Linked DNA regions of Homo sapiens. The protein of the gene in region 3 purifies or fractionates together with the protein of the main gene of each other region. This does not show direct contact. Each region holds a gene or a part of one and is shown on either strand. Other genes may lie near its edges.

The links.
Region 1: the proteins of SNX3 (region 3) and PITPNA fractionate together in Homo sapiens (co-fractionation; one large-scale study listed by BioGRID). This does not show direct contact.
Region 2: the proteins of SNX3 (region 3) and ANO3 purify together in Homo sapiens (affinity purification with mass spectrometry; one large-scale study listed by BioGRID and IntAct). This does not show direct contact.
Region 4: the proteins of SNX3 (region 3) and AKR1C2 fractionate together in Homo sapiens (co-fractionation; one large-scale study listed by BioGRID). This does not show direct contact.

The regions. Positions count from the first base shown.
Region 1 is NC_000017.11:1,538,793-1,542,292, reverse strand, and holds part of PITPNA (phosphatidylinositol transfer protein alpha isoform), read left to right. Parts: intron 1-652; coding exon 653-727; intron 728-3,340; coding exon 3,341-3,424; intron 3,425-3,500. UniProt on the Homo sapiens protein: Catalyzes the transfer of phosphatidylinositol (PI) and phosphatidylcholine (PC) between membranes. Shows a preference for PI and PC containing shorter saturated or monosaturated acyl chains at the sn-1 and sn-2 positions.
Region 2 is NC_000011.10:26,594,130-26,597,629, forward strand, and holds part of ANO3 (anoctamin-3), read left to right. Parts: intron 1-2,989; exon of another isoform or gene 2,990-3,045; intron 3,046-3,500. UniProt on the Homo sapiens protein: Has calcium-dependent phospholipid scramblase activity; scrambles phosphatidylcholine and galactosylceramide.
Region 3 is NC_000006.12:108,226,541-108,230,040, forward strand, and holds part of SNX3 (sorting nexin-3), read right to left. Parts: intron 1-3,500. UniProt on the Homo sapiens protein: Phosphoinositide-binding protein required for multivesicular body formation. Specifically binds phosphatidylinositol 3-phosphate (PtdIns(P3)).
Region 4 is NC_000010.11:4,993,858-4,997,357, forward strand, and holds part of AKR1C2 (aldo-keto reductase family 1 member C2), read right to left. Parts: exon of another isoform or gene 3,383-3,500; intron 2,290-3,382; exon of another isoform or gene 2,180-2,289; intron 2,009-2,179; coding exon 1,899-2,008; intron 1,811-1,898; exon of another isoform or gene 1,721-1,810; intron 1,628-1,720; coding exon 1,462-1,627; intron 1-1,461. UniProt on the Homo sapiens protein: Cytosolic aldo-keto reductase that catalyzes the NADH and NADPH-dependent reduction of ketosteroids to hydroxysteroids.

The DNA of each region.
Region 1 (3,500 bases), on a different chromosome or scaffold from region 3:
CCAGAGTGGCTAAATGCATGGATTCTGAAGTCAGACGAAACTGTTTTGAGACCCAACTCTGTCGTGATCTCTGTGACTTTTTTTTTTTTTTCGAAACGGAGTCTTGCTGTTGTTTCCTAGACTGGAGTGCAGTGGTGCAATCTCGGCTCCCTGCAGCTTCTGCCTCCTGGGTTCAGGCGATTCTCCTGCCTCAGCCTCCCGAGTAGCTGGGATTACAGGCACCCGCCACCATGCCTGGATAATTTTTGTATTTTTAGTAGAGACGGGTTTCACCACTGTTGGCCAGACTGGTCTCGATCTTGTGACCTCAAGTGATCCGCCCGCCTCGGCCTCCCAAAGTGCTGAGATGACAGGCGTGAGCCACCATGCCTGGCCCGATCTCTGTGACTTTGGTTAAGTCACCTAACCTCTTTGAACCTCATCTGTAAAATGAGGGTGATTCTACAGAGCTCTCAGGCTGGGGTGAGGATTGAATGGGATAATACATGCCTAGTGTGTCGTGGGCTCCCAGTCAAGTTAACTGTTATTACAAGGCAGAGGCTGGAATCTCCTAGCTGCCCATGATCCAGTAATGCCCATCTCCAGTAATGGGAGATGGTTACTCTCAACTGTGAACCTAGTGACTTTCATGTATTTTTTTTCCTTCTTCCAGAATGAGTACATGAAAGAAGACTTTCTGATTAAAATTGAAACCTGGCACAAACCAGATCTTGGCACGCAGGAGAATGTGAGTAGTAGTTCCCAAAAGCCCCAGGGGTGAGGTCTTGAGTCTCTGCCTTGTAGCCTCTCCAGGGCTACCATGGGGTCCTCTCTGTGGTCCTCTTTTGCCTGGCCGGGAAGGCAGTGGCCTCTGCCTAGACCTATCTTACCAGCATGGGATTGCTATGTCTCTGATTTGCAAAATGTGATCTCCGGAACTTTTTATGGGGCCTTCTCGTACTGCTTGGATTGGTGCAGTTCCTGGTACATGGGAGCTATATCTTTAAAAGACCAAAATTACAGTTTTCTATAGAGCACAATTTGCAGTAACTCCCAAAAAATAAAATACACCTATCCTTTAGCATTTCCATGCCCAAGAATTTAGACAGTTATTTTCACATGTGTGAAATAACATATATACAAGGAGACTCATTGCAGTCTTCTTTGTGTAGCCAAAGATCAAAAACAATGTAAGACCATCCTGGGCAACATAACAAGACTCTGTCTCTACCAAAAATAAAAAAAGAATTAGCTGGGCATGGTGGTATGTGCCTGTGGTCCCAGCCACTCTGGAGGCCGAGGCTGGAGGATCATTTGAGGCTGGGAAGTCAAGGCTGCAGTGAGCTGTGACTGCACCACCACACTCCAGCCTGGGCAACAGAGTGACACCCTGTCTCCAAAAACAAAAAAACAACATAAGAGCCCGTTAGACCGGGTGCGGTGGCTCACGCCTGTAATCCCAGCACTTTGGGAGGCCGAGGCAGGCGGATCACGAGGTCAGGAGATCGAGACCATCCTGGCTAACACGGTGAAACCCTGTCCCTACTAAAAATACAAAACAGCCAGGCTTCATGGCGGGCACCTGTAGTCCCAGCTACTCAGGAGGCTGAGGCAGGAGAATGGCGTGAACCCGGGAGTCGAAGCTTGCAGTGAGCCGAGATCACGCCACTGTACTCCAACTTGGGTGACAGAGCGAGACACTGTCTTAAAAAAAAAAAAAGAGAAAAAAAAGGCCCGTTAGTAGGACAACGTTAAATGCATTGTGGTTCAGCCAAATAGTGACATCCTTGCAGCCATGGAAAAACCAATAGAGAGCAGTCTTCAAGTTGACTGTTCAGTGAAGGATGGAAGTTATGAAACAAGGTGTGTGCATGCCGCCCTTCATATTAAAAGAAAAATCCACGCACATGGATGTTTGTATGTAGGATCTCTTAGAGGTGGCTGTTACTAGACTGGGGACGAGGGACAAGCAAGAAGAGGAGTTACTCTAGTTACTCTATATTGTATCCTTTTGTAATTTTGAATTTGTGTCATAATTTTGTATTATGTGCATGTACAGCCTGATCAAAATAATCAGCATGTTGCTAAACAGACGCCATCTCTAGAAGGGTTTACAGTCTTTACAGCGGGTCAGCATGTTGCTAAACAGACACCATCTCTAGAAGGGTTTACAGTCTGTACAGCCGGGAACACATGGAAATGGTGTGGGCACCGTAAACATCCGGAAGGCGTTTTGACCTGCAGAAGTGACGTTTACCCTCAATAGTCAGAGCATTCGTTCTCAGTCATGTCACTTAAAATCCAGCGGGGGCTGGGCGGGAGGCCAAGGCGGGTGGAACACTTGAAGTCAGTAGTTTGAGATCAGCCTGGCCAACATGGTGAAACCCTGTTTCTACTAAAAATACAAAAATTAGCTGGGCGTGGTAGCCCACGCCTGTAATCCCAGATACTCGGGAAGCTGAGGTAGGATAATCGCTTGAACCCGGGAGGCAGAGTTTGCAGTGAGCCGAGATCGCGCCATTGCACTCCAGCCTGGGCGTCGCAGCAAGACTCCATCTCAGACAAACAGACAATCCAGCTGGGTTCAGTGTTGTGCACCTATAGTCCCAGCTCCTCAGGAGGCTGAGACAGGAGGATCACTCAGGCCCAGCTCCTCAGGAGGCTGAGACAGGAGGATCACTCGGGCCCAGCTCCTCAGGAGGCTGTGACAGGAGGATTGCTCGGGCCCAGCTCCTCAGGAGGCTGAGACGGGAGGATCACTCGGGCCCAGCTCTTCAGGAGGCTGTAACAGGAGGATCACTCAGGCCCAGGCAGGAGACTGAGAGAGGAGGATCACTCAGGCCCAGCTCCTCAGGAGGCTGTGACAGGAGGATCACTAGGGCCCAGCTCCTCAGGAGGCTGTGACAGGAGGATCACTCGGGCCCAGCTCCTCAGGAGGCTGTGACAGGAGGATCACTCGGGCCCAGCTCCTCAGGAGACTGAGACAGGAGGATCACTCGGGCCTAGGCAGGAGGCTGAGACAGTAGGATCCCTCGGTCCCAGGCAGGAGGCTGAGGCAGGAGGATCACTAGGAGCCTGAGGCAGGAGGATCACTCCGGCCCAGGAGTTCATGCTAGAGTGTGCTGTGATCACTCCTGTGGATAGCCATTGCCTGAGAAACACGGTGAGACCCCATCTCTTAAAAAAAAAAATCCATTCTCCCATTTCTTTGGATAATTTTGTATGTAATTGTATAATTACTTATCATTAGGAATCTTACATCTGTGGCTATGGGAATGGCAGTTCCTAGGTGTCCATTCTGGCTAAAGGATATTTTATAACTGACAAAAACTGCATAGTGGTTCCCCACTTGTTCCCACAGGTGCATAAGCTGGAGCCTGAGGCGTGGAAACACGTGGAAGCCGTATATATAGACATTGCAGATCGAAGCCAAGTGCTCAGCAAGGTAGGATCCGTTTAAAGACGTGGGTGGCCTTCGAGACGCAGAAATGACTTCTCAATGCTAAAGAAACCAGGAAACC
Region 2 (3,500 bases), on a different chromosome or scaffold from region 3:
AGTGGACATCATTGAATAATTCAAAGTCTTCTTCCTAGTTTTCCTTAGTCCTTCTAGCATGCAAGTTAGCAAATGTCTGCGGCACCAATCTCCATCTTCTGATTTTGCGTCCCAATGAGGGTCTACACTGGGAACTGCCTGCTGGCCTGTGGGGAATCATTCTCTTTCCTCTGTTGTCATCCTATCATTGAACTGACTGAGACGCCAGAGATCACCAAACTCTCGGGCTGCAGCTATGGCGGCACTTCTCTCATTTGGAGTTAGTGCCTGATTTAGCAGTAACATTATATCTCTCCATGTCAGATCAAAGGATTGTCCTAACCCTTGTAAAACATCAATATAGCCATCAAGGTTATCTGAGAATTCACCTAGGTCTATTTTAATTTGCTTCAAGTCTGAGAGGGAAAAAGGTACATGCACTCTGACTGGGCCAAATTCTCCTCCTCCCACCACTTGGAGGGGGCGTAATCGGGTAATACTGGCACTCTTGGGTTCATTGTTTACCCCTTTGTCTATCTCTTTTTGGACTGTTTGGGTTGAAGGGGGGTCTTTATTAGTTGGGGAAGGAGCTGGGAGAACACCAGGGCAGGGAGGTAGACTCTGAGGGCTTCCTGTAGGGCATAAATTACACTTTTTACATAATTGAGAGTTTTCTCTTAATGAAAAGAAAGTTTGCACATATGGCACTTCACTCTATTTGCCCTCCTTTCTACAAAGGAGATCTAGCTGTAAGATGATGTTATAATATATACTTCCCTCAGGGGGCCAGGTTTCTCCCCCTTGAAGAGTATATTGTGGCCTGGCGGGACTGCAGAAGAATATAAGTTGTTTCTTTCTTAGCGTATGAGGGTCAAATTGGTCCCAATTCTCCAGAATACATCTTAGGGGCATTTTTGCCTTGGGGGGAATGTTTCCCATCTGAAAAAAGAACATAGGGATGCCAGGATCCCCAGTCATTTTCCAATGAGCTTTAGTCCTAGAGCGTCCTCTATGGTGTTAATGCTTATTCCTTTCCAGGGTGTGTAACCAACCATGGACCTCTGCTTATCGGATTAGTTACACTCACCAGTGTAGCAGTCCTGCACCCTTTTTCCTGCCTTTCTTGACCACAAAGAAAGGGGTCCAGGCTGCTGGATTCTAGTGGTCCTTTACCAGCATGCCCAACATTGCCTTTGGCTCAGGGGTGAGTCCTAGAGCTGGGCTGGATTCCTGAGTACTTCAAACAACCCAGCTGCCCCATCCAGATTCATTCCCATAAACAACAGTTCTTATGCGAATTCGTTTTGGAGAGGGTGTAGGTAAACTTTTGACTCAGTATTGAGATAGAGTTGTTTTTTTTTTTTTTTTTTTTTTTTTTTATTCTGTAAGTACTTTAAGGCTTGGCTGAGTGCAAACAGCTCACACGTTTGAGCAGACCAATTATTAGGCAATTCTCCTAACTCTGCTTCCACAAGAGTCTCCCTATCAATTACTGAATACCCATTGTGGTTTTTTCTCAATCACCCGGGAGGAACCATCTGTCGTCCTGAAGGGAGTTCCTCCTAGGTCTGATCGGACTTTGTATGGTAATTAAGATTGAAATCCCCTGTTAGGAAATCTGCTGGGTTAAGAGAATTTTCAGTGGTTAGTGTTAAATCACCTTTTTCTAACAGAATAGCCGCATACTTTAAGATTTTTGAGTTAGTAAGCTACTTTTTTGCTTTTTTTGATTTAGGATAGCTCTGAACTGGTGAGGTGTGCTCACAATGAGGTTTCCTCTAAAGGTTATTTTTCTACTTTCTTCTGTTAGCAAGACAGTTGCCGCTACCAATTGAATGCATTTGGGCCATTCGCGGGTTACTGAGTTAAGAATTTTTGATAGGAAGGCTATGGGTTGTCAGTGGTCTCAGTGTTTTGGGCTATGCCCTTGTTTACATTGACAACAAGGTAATATTGGAGTGTTATAGGGTCACGGAGAAGACCTTCAATTATCAATTACAGGTTTTAAATTTACCCTGGCTTTTAAAGGAATAGGGCACACTGTTTTTCCTTTACTATTTCTATCTTTCTCTTTCTCTCTTTCTTCTTTGACTTTCTGTCTCTCTCTGTTTGACTCATCTTTTGTCTCTGTTTCTTCCTCTCTCTCTCCCTCTCTGCCTCTCTCTTTCTCCTCTCTGCCTCTGTAGAAGGATTTTGGAAACATAGTGGAAGGACATTCGCTTGTTGCCCCCATTTGCCACTATAGGAATATGTGCCTCCCTTTAATTTACTCAATTCATTTTCAACCTGATCTATTATGTTGTTGTAGACCCAGTTCCAGTTGTTAAAGTACTGGGTTATCAATTCTAAGGCCCTGGCAAGGGTGGTGGGGAACGGGTCCCACATAACTGCCCATGTCGAGAGCTGTATGCCTGAATTGGGAGAGTCACCAGGGCCAAGACTCCCTGGGTTCATTGCCTAGGTGCTTAAGGACACAGCGTAGAGCTTCCTTAGATCCCTTTGGAGATACAACCTGCTCTAATACTTGGGAACGGAAGTGAAAGTCTGAAGCATTAGTACCTAGGAGGCAGGGATCAGAGGAAGTAGATTCAGAGGTAAGGAGAATTTTGGGGCTACACTTTCAAGAAAGTCATGGTTAGGACCCAGGAGATATGGGTCAGAAGGAGAGGTAGGGGCACACACATGGGCAACTGTTGAGTAGAGACTTCTGGCTGTGCAATGATCTCCACCGGCCAATGCCAGGAGTTCAGGACGACAGCTTTCTGCCTCTAGCCGACCCTCGGCTTCCCTAGGAAAATTGTGAAAGCAGAAGCTGGTTCCAGGCAGAACAAAGCTCCCAACACAGAAGGGTTGGGGGTTGTTAGAAAGCTTTTTCCCAGGAAACCTCACACCTGAGTCCAGCAGCCACGCTAATCGTTTTTAACTGGCTGATGGGTGCCCGGTTATTTTCCTCCAATTCTAAGGAAGGATAGGACAGAATAGCAAGTGAAAGTGGTTCAGTATTACTCACCGCTTTGGAGAAGCGCCGTACGGGCCACCAAATGTTACCGGCGGGTCTTTGTTCTTAGAGTTCCCAAGATGGTGGCAGGCCACTCCCAAGATGGGGCGGGCTGCTCCCAAGATGGCAGCAAGCCTTTTGTTCTCTGACCTGGGGTTCTTGGCCTCACGGATTCCAAGGAATGGAACCTTGGGCCATGCGATGAGTGATATAGCTCTATTAGAAGCCATGGGTCACAGAAGGAACCATGGAACCCAGTGACTAGTGTTCAGCTGGATTAGGACGAACCTGGGCACTTAGCCGTGCAGGAACAACGGCAAGCCTCTAGCTGGATCCAGAGCGGCAATGGGCGCCTCGCTGAATCAGGAGCACAGTGGACACCCTGCCGGATCTGGAGGGGTTGAAGTCAGCGGTGGGTCTGTGACAGTGGCAAACAGCAGTGGTGGACAGCAAGCAAAAGCTCAGCTCGAGCCGTAACAAACACGGACCAGAAGAGTGTGCAGTTGCAAGATTTAATAGAGTG
Region 3 (3,500 bases):
TGCATAGAACTAAAAAGTGTTTTACAATTGGAAGAAAAAAGTTAAGTGCCACCTGAAGGAAAGACTGGCTTCCTACTGTGTATACAGGGACATCATCTTGTAATATTCACTCCTAAGAAAGTTCTACTTATTTGTTAAGCTTAATGCTACTGGTAAGTAGCTGTCACTCAGCACAAGAAAAGCTTTTAATTCAGGCCCTTAAATCCATTTTGTAGTGGTCTCAATTTTTTCCTAAGTGTATTAACTTCTCTATGTTGTATACCTTACAGCTCAGAATTTTCAACAGATGCTATTGGGCATAACAGTGTATAGGTTTCAAGCATGAAACCAAATCTCACAAGAGATTTAAAAGCACTTGAATTTTCTTTCCCAGGTAACCACAACATTTGTTCATTGTATAAATGACTAAGGAAAAAATTGCACCTAACAAGACTCTTATTATACTAAAAGTCAAGCTTATATTTAAAGATGCTGGCTTGTTGTACAGAGGGTATTCTCATTCCCCACAGGGAATAAAATTAGGTCCCCTGGAGAGTAGAATAATTCCCAGAAAGAAAGCACTGGATTATTTCTCTCTAATTTCACCTATTGGCTTTTTAACCAAGTTCACCCTTCCGCATTAAAATATTAAGTCTTTGTAAATGCCTTAAAGATAAAAAGGCCTTTACAGAGTTGAGTGTTTTCTGCAGGTGAGATTTTACATTCTGAATTCCCTCCTCTCAAATTACTTTACAAAGGGGATTAACTGCTCTCTTTATTCAAATACGTTAAGATCAAGCTTGCGAAAAGAGTCCCCTAAGAATTTTCATACTTCTGGGTACGGAAGTCTATAAAGTTAATCTCTGAAACAACATATCAAGCTTACAGGTACAATGTTGAGAGAAGAGTGCCAATTCAGCTCATTTTACCTTCCATTTTCCCTTTTGAACTTTTGACACAATCATGATTATATCTGATTCACTCTAACAGAAAGGGGAGGGGTGAGGGGGAAAAGTACTTTCCCTTCTATGATTAGCTAATAGTTTGATAGTTTATATACTTAAATTTAGAGGACCATGATTAGCTTAAGAAAGTTCCTTTAGTTTTCTTAACTGGTTATGATTTCTCTTTTTGCATGAGGACTGCTTTAGAGTTTAAAGTCACATCAAGAAATTCAAACATCACTTGCCCATTACATATGCAGTGGTTAACTTAGCCTGTTAAACGTCTTCCTCATCATTACAAGGATTTGTAATTCAATGTAACTGATTAAAATAACTAAGTGCAAAATGTGGGTTTTTTTTTTTTGTTGTTGTTGTTGTTTAAGGTACTGAACTATCACTGCTGAAACTCCTGTGATTGGTCACTTTCAATTTATTTAACTTTCATAAAATGATTGAAGGGCGGAGAGGTTTTTTACCTACAGCTTCAGGAGGACTAAACTATTATTTACTGATCATCTATAAAAGGGCACCATGCTAGATAAGGGAGAATCATTATTTATAATGATGAATAAGATGCAGACCTGGCCCTTATGAAACATACACCAATCAAGGTTAGAAAATAAGCATATAAAAAGTTGAATTTCCATGGTTAAAAATACTACAAACTGGCTGGGCATGATGGCTCAAGCCTGTAATCCCTGTACTTTGGAAGGCTGAGGTGGGAGGATCACAGGAGTTTGAGACCAGGCTGGGCAACATGGTGAGACCCCCATCTCTACAAAAAATAAAAAATTAGCTGGGCAGGCTGGGCGTGGTGGCTCATGCCTGTAATCCCAGCACTTTGGGAGGCCAAGGCGGGTGGATCATCTGAGGTCAGGAGTTCGCGACCAGCCTGGACAACATGGTGAAACCCTGTCTCTACTAAAAACACAAAAATTAGCCAGGCATGGTGGCGGGTACCTGTAATCCCAGCTACTCGGGATGCTGAGGCAGAACTGCTTGAACCCGGGAAGCGGAGACTGCAGTGAACCAAGATTGCGCCACTGCACTCCAGCCTGGGCAACAAGAGCGAAACTCTGTTTAAAAAAAAAAAAATTAGCTGGGTATGGTGGCACATGCCTGTAGTGGGAAGATAAGGTGTCAGGATGGCTTCAGCCTTCGAGGCTGAGGCTGCATGAGCTGTGATCACATCACTCACTGTATTTCAGCCTGGGTGACAGAGGGAGACGGTCTCAAAAAAAAGGGGGGCATTTTGGTGAATACATTATCCATTACTCTATTAAATACACATAACTTTTGAATGAACAATTTCAATGGGAATTAATCCTACAAATATTTCCACACATACAAAAATATTTTAGCATTGTAATAGACACAAAAAAAAACCCCAAAAAAGACCAGAAACAATAAATCTTACATTACAAGCTTATATTACACAGCTTTTTACAAAATATAACTCAGCCATAGGTTAATCAGAAAAGCTGTCTAGAATGTATGACATGTAAAAAGTTTCAGGCTGGGTGCGGTGGCTTATGCCTATAATCCCAGCACTTTGGGAGGCTGAGGCGGGTGGATCACTTGAGGTCAGGAGTTCAAGACCAGCCTGGCCAATACAGTGAAACCCCATCTCTACTAAAAATACAAACATTAGCCGGGTGAGGTGGCACGAGCCTGTAATTCCTGCTACTCCGGAGGCTATGGCAGGATAATCGCTTGAACCCGGGAGGCGGAGGTTGCAGTGAGGTGAGATCATGCCACTGCACTCCAGCCTGGGCGACAGAGCGAGACTCCACCTCAAAAAAAAAAAAAAAAAAAAAGTTTCAGAACAGTATATTATATAGCATAATACCATTTGTATAATATGAAAAGCACGGAAGAATTGACAATTGATTTGGCCCGGATTCATTCATTCTTTCCCCTCCTTTTCTTTCCTTTCCTCAGTCTCTCTGCTTCCCCTCCCTCTCCCCCTCCCTCCCTCCCCTTCCTTCCTTTAGAGACAGGGTCTCCCTAAGTTGCTCAGGCTGGTCTTGAACTCCTGGGCTCAAGGGATCCTTCCACCTCAGCCTCCCAAAGTGCTGGAATATGAGGTGTGAGCCACTGCGTACGGCCAGTCAGGACTCTTTTTCGTTTTGTTTGTTTTTGAGACAGAGTTTCGCTCTTGTCGCCCATGCTAGGGTAAAATGGCGCGAGTGCAATGGCCTCAGCCAGGACTCTTTTAACACAGAGCTAGCCATACTATAAGACAGCTGAAAATGGTGAAAATAGTGTGAGCTAAATGCAGAGAAGAAACAAGTACAGTGTATATTTAGTATATAATTCTTGAATATTCTAAAGCATAGGGAATGATGGGAAATAAAACTGAAAAGTTTAAATTGCACTCTAAATATGGGGCTAAGGTGACTACCTGTGAGCATCAGGAGTTAATAAATATGTTTGAATAGAAAAATGATAGCTATGAACAGAAAAAATAGAACAGAGAAGTTACTACAGAAGTAGAAGCCACAGATGAGCTGCATGTAGCATTAAGGTGTAGAATTAAGAACAGATGGCTCTAGTTGATTCCTAGGTTTATCTGCT
Region 4 (3,500 bases), on a different chromosome or scaffold from region 3:
CACATATGTATAAATACTGATAATTTCCACAGTCTTTCATAACTTTTCATTTTTGTTTTGTGAATTCTCTAATGTCCAAAAATATTTTTAAAATAATTTAATGAATGCCATTACCTAGATTCATCAATTGTTTCATTATTGTCATTTTTTATTCTCTCGTTCTCTGTATCACTATTTCAGAGTATCCTATGGATTTCTTCACTTATTTTACTTAATGTTTTAGTAAATAGTGACGTATATACATATACATGATATATGTCATATATATGACATAGGTTTTATAATATATATCATACGTGATGTATATTTTATGTATCTAACTAATTAGAAAACATACACATATGTATGTATTCTGGATGTTAATTCTTTAGAGACTTGTATGAATTCTTGAGAATATATGAAATAATATATCTATATATATTCATATTCATACATATAACTATTGATATATTATTTCACACATATCATATAAATGATAGATTAATTAGGAACATGCCCTCTAACAATCACATGTCCCTGTGTCCACTTGCTTGGCTATATGAATTTCCAGTTCCTTCCAGTAAGAGGTGGTGTGTGTTTCCCCACCCCTTGAGTCTGACCTGTCCTGTAACTTGCATTAGGTGATAGAATTTCCCAGAAGCAATGGTTGGTGTCTCTGAGCCTAGACCTAAAAAGGCTTTGCACATGTCCATTCACTATGCTGGGGTCATGCCCTGTGCTGAGGTGAACCCTGGGCTGGATGGCTGGAGGATAAAGAACTGCATGGGAGAGGGGGGCACTCACACAGATGCCCCAGGGACATCCTGAAGCAGAGCTGCCTCACTGCCCTGAACACACATGAGAGCCCAGCCAGGAACAGAAGGAATGGACTGAGTTTAGGCTGAGCCCAGGCTAATTTTCTAACCATGGAACCTTGAGCTCAATAAATGCTTTTGCATTAAGCCTCTATATTAAGTGGGTTTGTCTTATATCCTAAGGTATTGGTATAAATATGGTCTCCTACACATAAAAATAAAGACACACAACCACCTCGCCAAAAAAAAAGGCAGAGTTAAACAAGCACTTCGCAAAGATAAAATTCTAAGAGAATAAATATAAGGAATTTATACTACATAAACATACAAGAAGAAAAATCCGCCATGAGTTGGAGACTAAAGAACATCTAATCAATGCTTCATTATAAAAAATAAAGAAAAGGACATGGCCCCAGTAGAGGGATATGGATATCACTGACTTAACGCTAACCCAAATCTGTAGTTTTGATCCCATCCTATTACTCTCCACCTCTGTTGCCTCTCCTGTGCTAGAGTAGAAGAAACCCTTATGACGTACACAAAGAGTTCATGCATAGGAAATACAGGGAAATGGAGCTGGCCCAAGGCTGTCCTGAGAGCCTTACAAGAAGCACACGTGTGAAGGACACTGTGCAGGAGACCTGAGGCCCACAGCCCCGCTCCTCACCTGCACGTTCTGTCTGATGCGCTGCTCATTGTAGCTCTTGGCCAGGACCACAACCCCACGCTGCAGCTGGTAGCGCAGGGCAATCAGGGCTGGGGTTCGCTTGTGCTTTTTTGCCAAGGCACAAAGGACTGGGTCCTCCAAGAGCACCGGGGAGTTCGGGTCCACCCTGGAAGGAAAGGCAGAAAGGCTGAGGCCCTGAGGCTGGCGATAGTTTGTTAGGCGGCTCCCTAAACAGACTAAGGCGTCCACTCTGCACCGGAGCTTCTCAAGCGAGGCCCCCGAACAGCAGCCTCAACATCACCTGGGATCTCGTCAGAAATGCAAATTCTTCCCTCACCCCAAGTCAGCTGTGAGTGAACTCCAGGAAACAGCATGATCTGATTAAATTTTTTTTATCAAACCAGTGTTTTAGGTAAACTTCCTGTATCTCTTATTACCATGGTTCTTCTCGATGGGATCCCAGAGCACTATAGGCAACCAGAACAATGTCTTTTGACTTGCAGAAATCCAGCAGTTTTCTCTGGTTGAAGTAAGGATGACATTCCACCTGCAGACGAGCAAGATGGAAAAGCATCAGATAATCCAAAAGTTACATTAATATTAAAATCACCAAAGTAAAAGAAGCTGAATAATGTAGAGCATTAAATTTGAACTGAGAATATTATTGTCAAAAATGATCTTTTTCATAAAAATAAATTTTATGCCCCTCTCTCCTAAGAAAATAGAAATGCTATTTCTGAGCACAAGCAACTCCATGAACCCTATCCTGGTTTCTCAATAACTCCGACCACTAGAAGGAGACACGGCCAATTTCAGAGCTGGGATGAGGTAAGATTCTTTGAGCCTTGGGCATCAAATCGTGCCAGAAATCAAGAATTTGGTCAAAGACTCATGAGGGCAGGTCTGAAAAACAAAAGAACTAGTTTCCTAATTAATACCAAAAATGCATACATATATATGTATGTTTTCTAATTGATCTGACATATATATATCATATATGCCATCTATGATATATATCTATATAGATGAACTAGAAAATATACATATACACATAAATACTGATAATTTTCACAGTCTTTCATTACTTTTCCTTTTTGTATGATGGATTTGTATGTTGATATCTCAAATGTCACCAGTGGGTTCCCTATGAAACAAGTGCTTTTGTCTTTTACACTTGCCCTCATGAGTCTTTGATCACATTCTTCTTTCATATATATTATATATATATAATATATATATATATGCTGAGTAGATGTGAGCATTAAAAAATGAGTAAAATAAATTAAAAATCATAACACAAGAATCCGTGAGTCTGTAGCAATTAGTGCGACAATGAGAAAAAGAACAACAATCTTTGTCTACTCTGATGGTGGTCATTACAGTAATTACGTTCACAGTACATTGCTAATTGAAGGAAGAAGTTTACCTTTACTCTCACTTAGAGGAATAGTAGTTTATTATTTTTACTTGGTGAGAAATTATTTTTAATTAAATGTCAGGTAAGAATAGTTAAACAAGTGGTTAAAATTGTAAATGATTATGTAAAAACCCCAAGGAAATAACAAATAAGAAATAACAAAGAAGAAAACAGAAATGCAGTAGAAAAAAGTTCAAATCACTGATGTATACTCAATCATATGTGAAAATTTGTCATGGGAATATGACTTCTTCTGTTGAGAATTATCCCCCAGCAGATTACTAGTAATTGTTAAAGAGAAAACATGAGTTAAAAACAACAGATCTGACCACTGTTAGCTTAACCAAGTTTTTAAAACTACCTTCACCACTAGTGGGGCATTCTGTGATTGTATGCAGTCTAGTGTCGTGCAATTTGAAAAACACAGCATGATAAAAACATTTTCTTGCCCCAAAGTTTTAAGCCAATGTAATAAAATACTCACATCTAACTTTTAATTTACAGGAACCTTCAACTGGGAAAAACAAGTTAACTGATATCAAATACAACAATATAAAAACAATTGAATTCTGGTTAAAAAAAGAAGAGCTACAAAAGATATTTTGATTAAGCAATGAAAAAT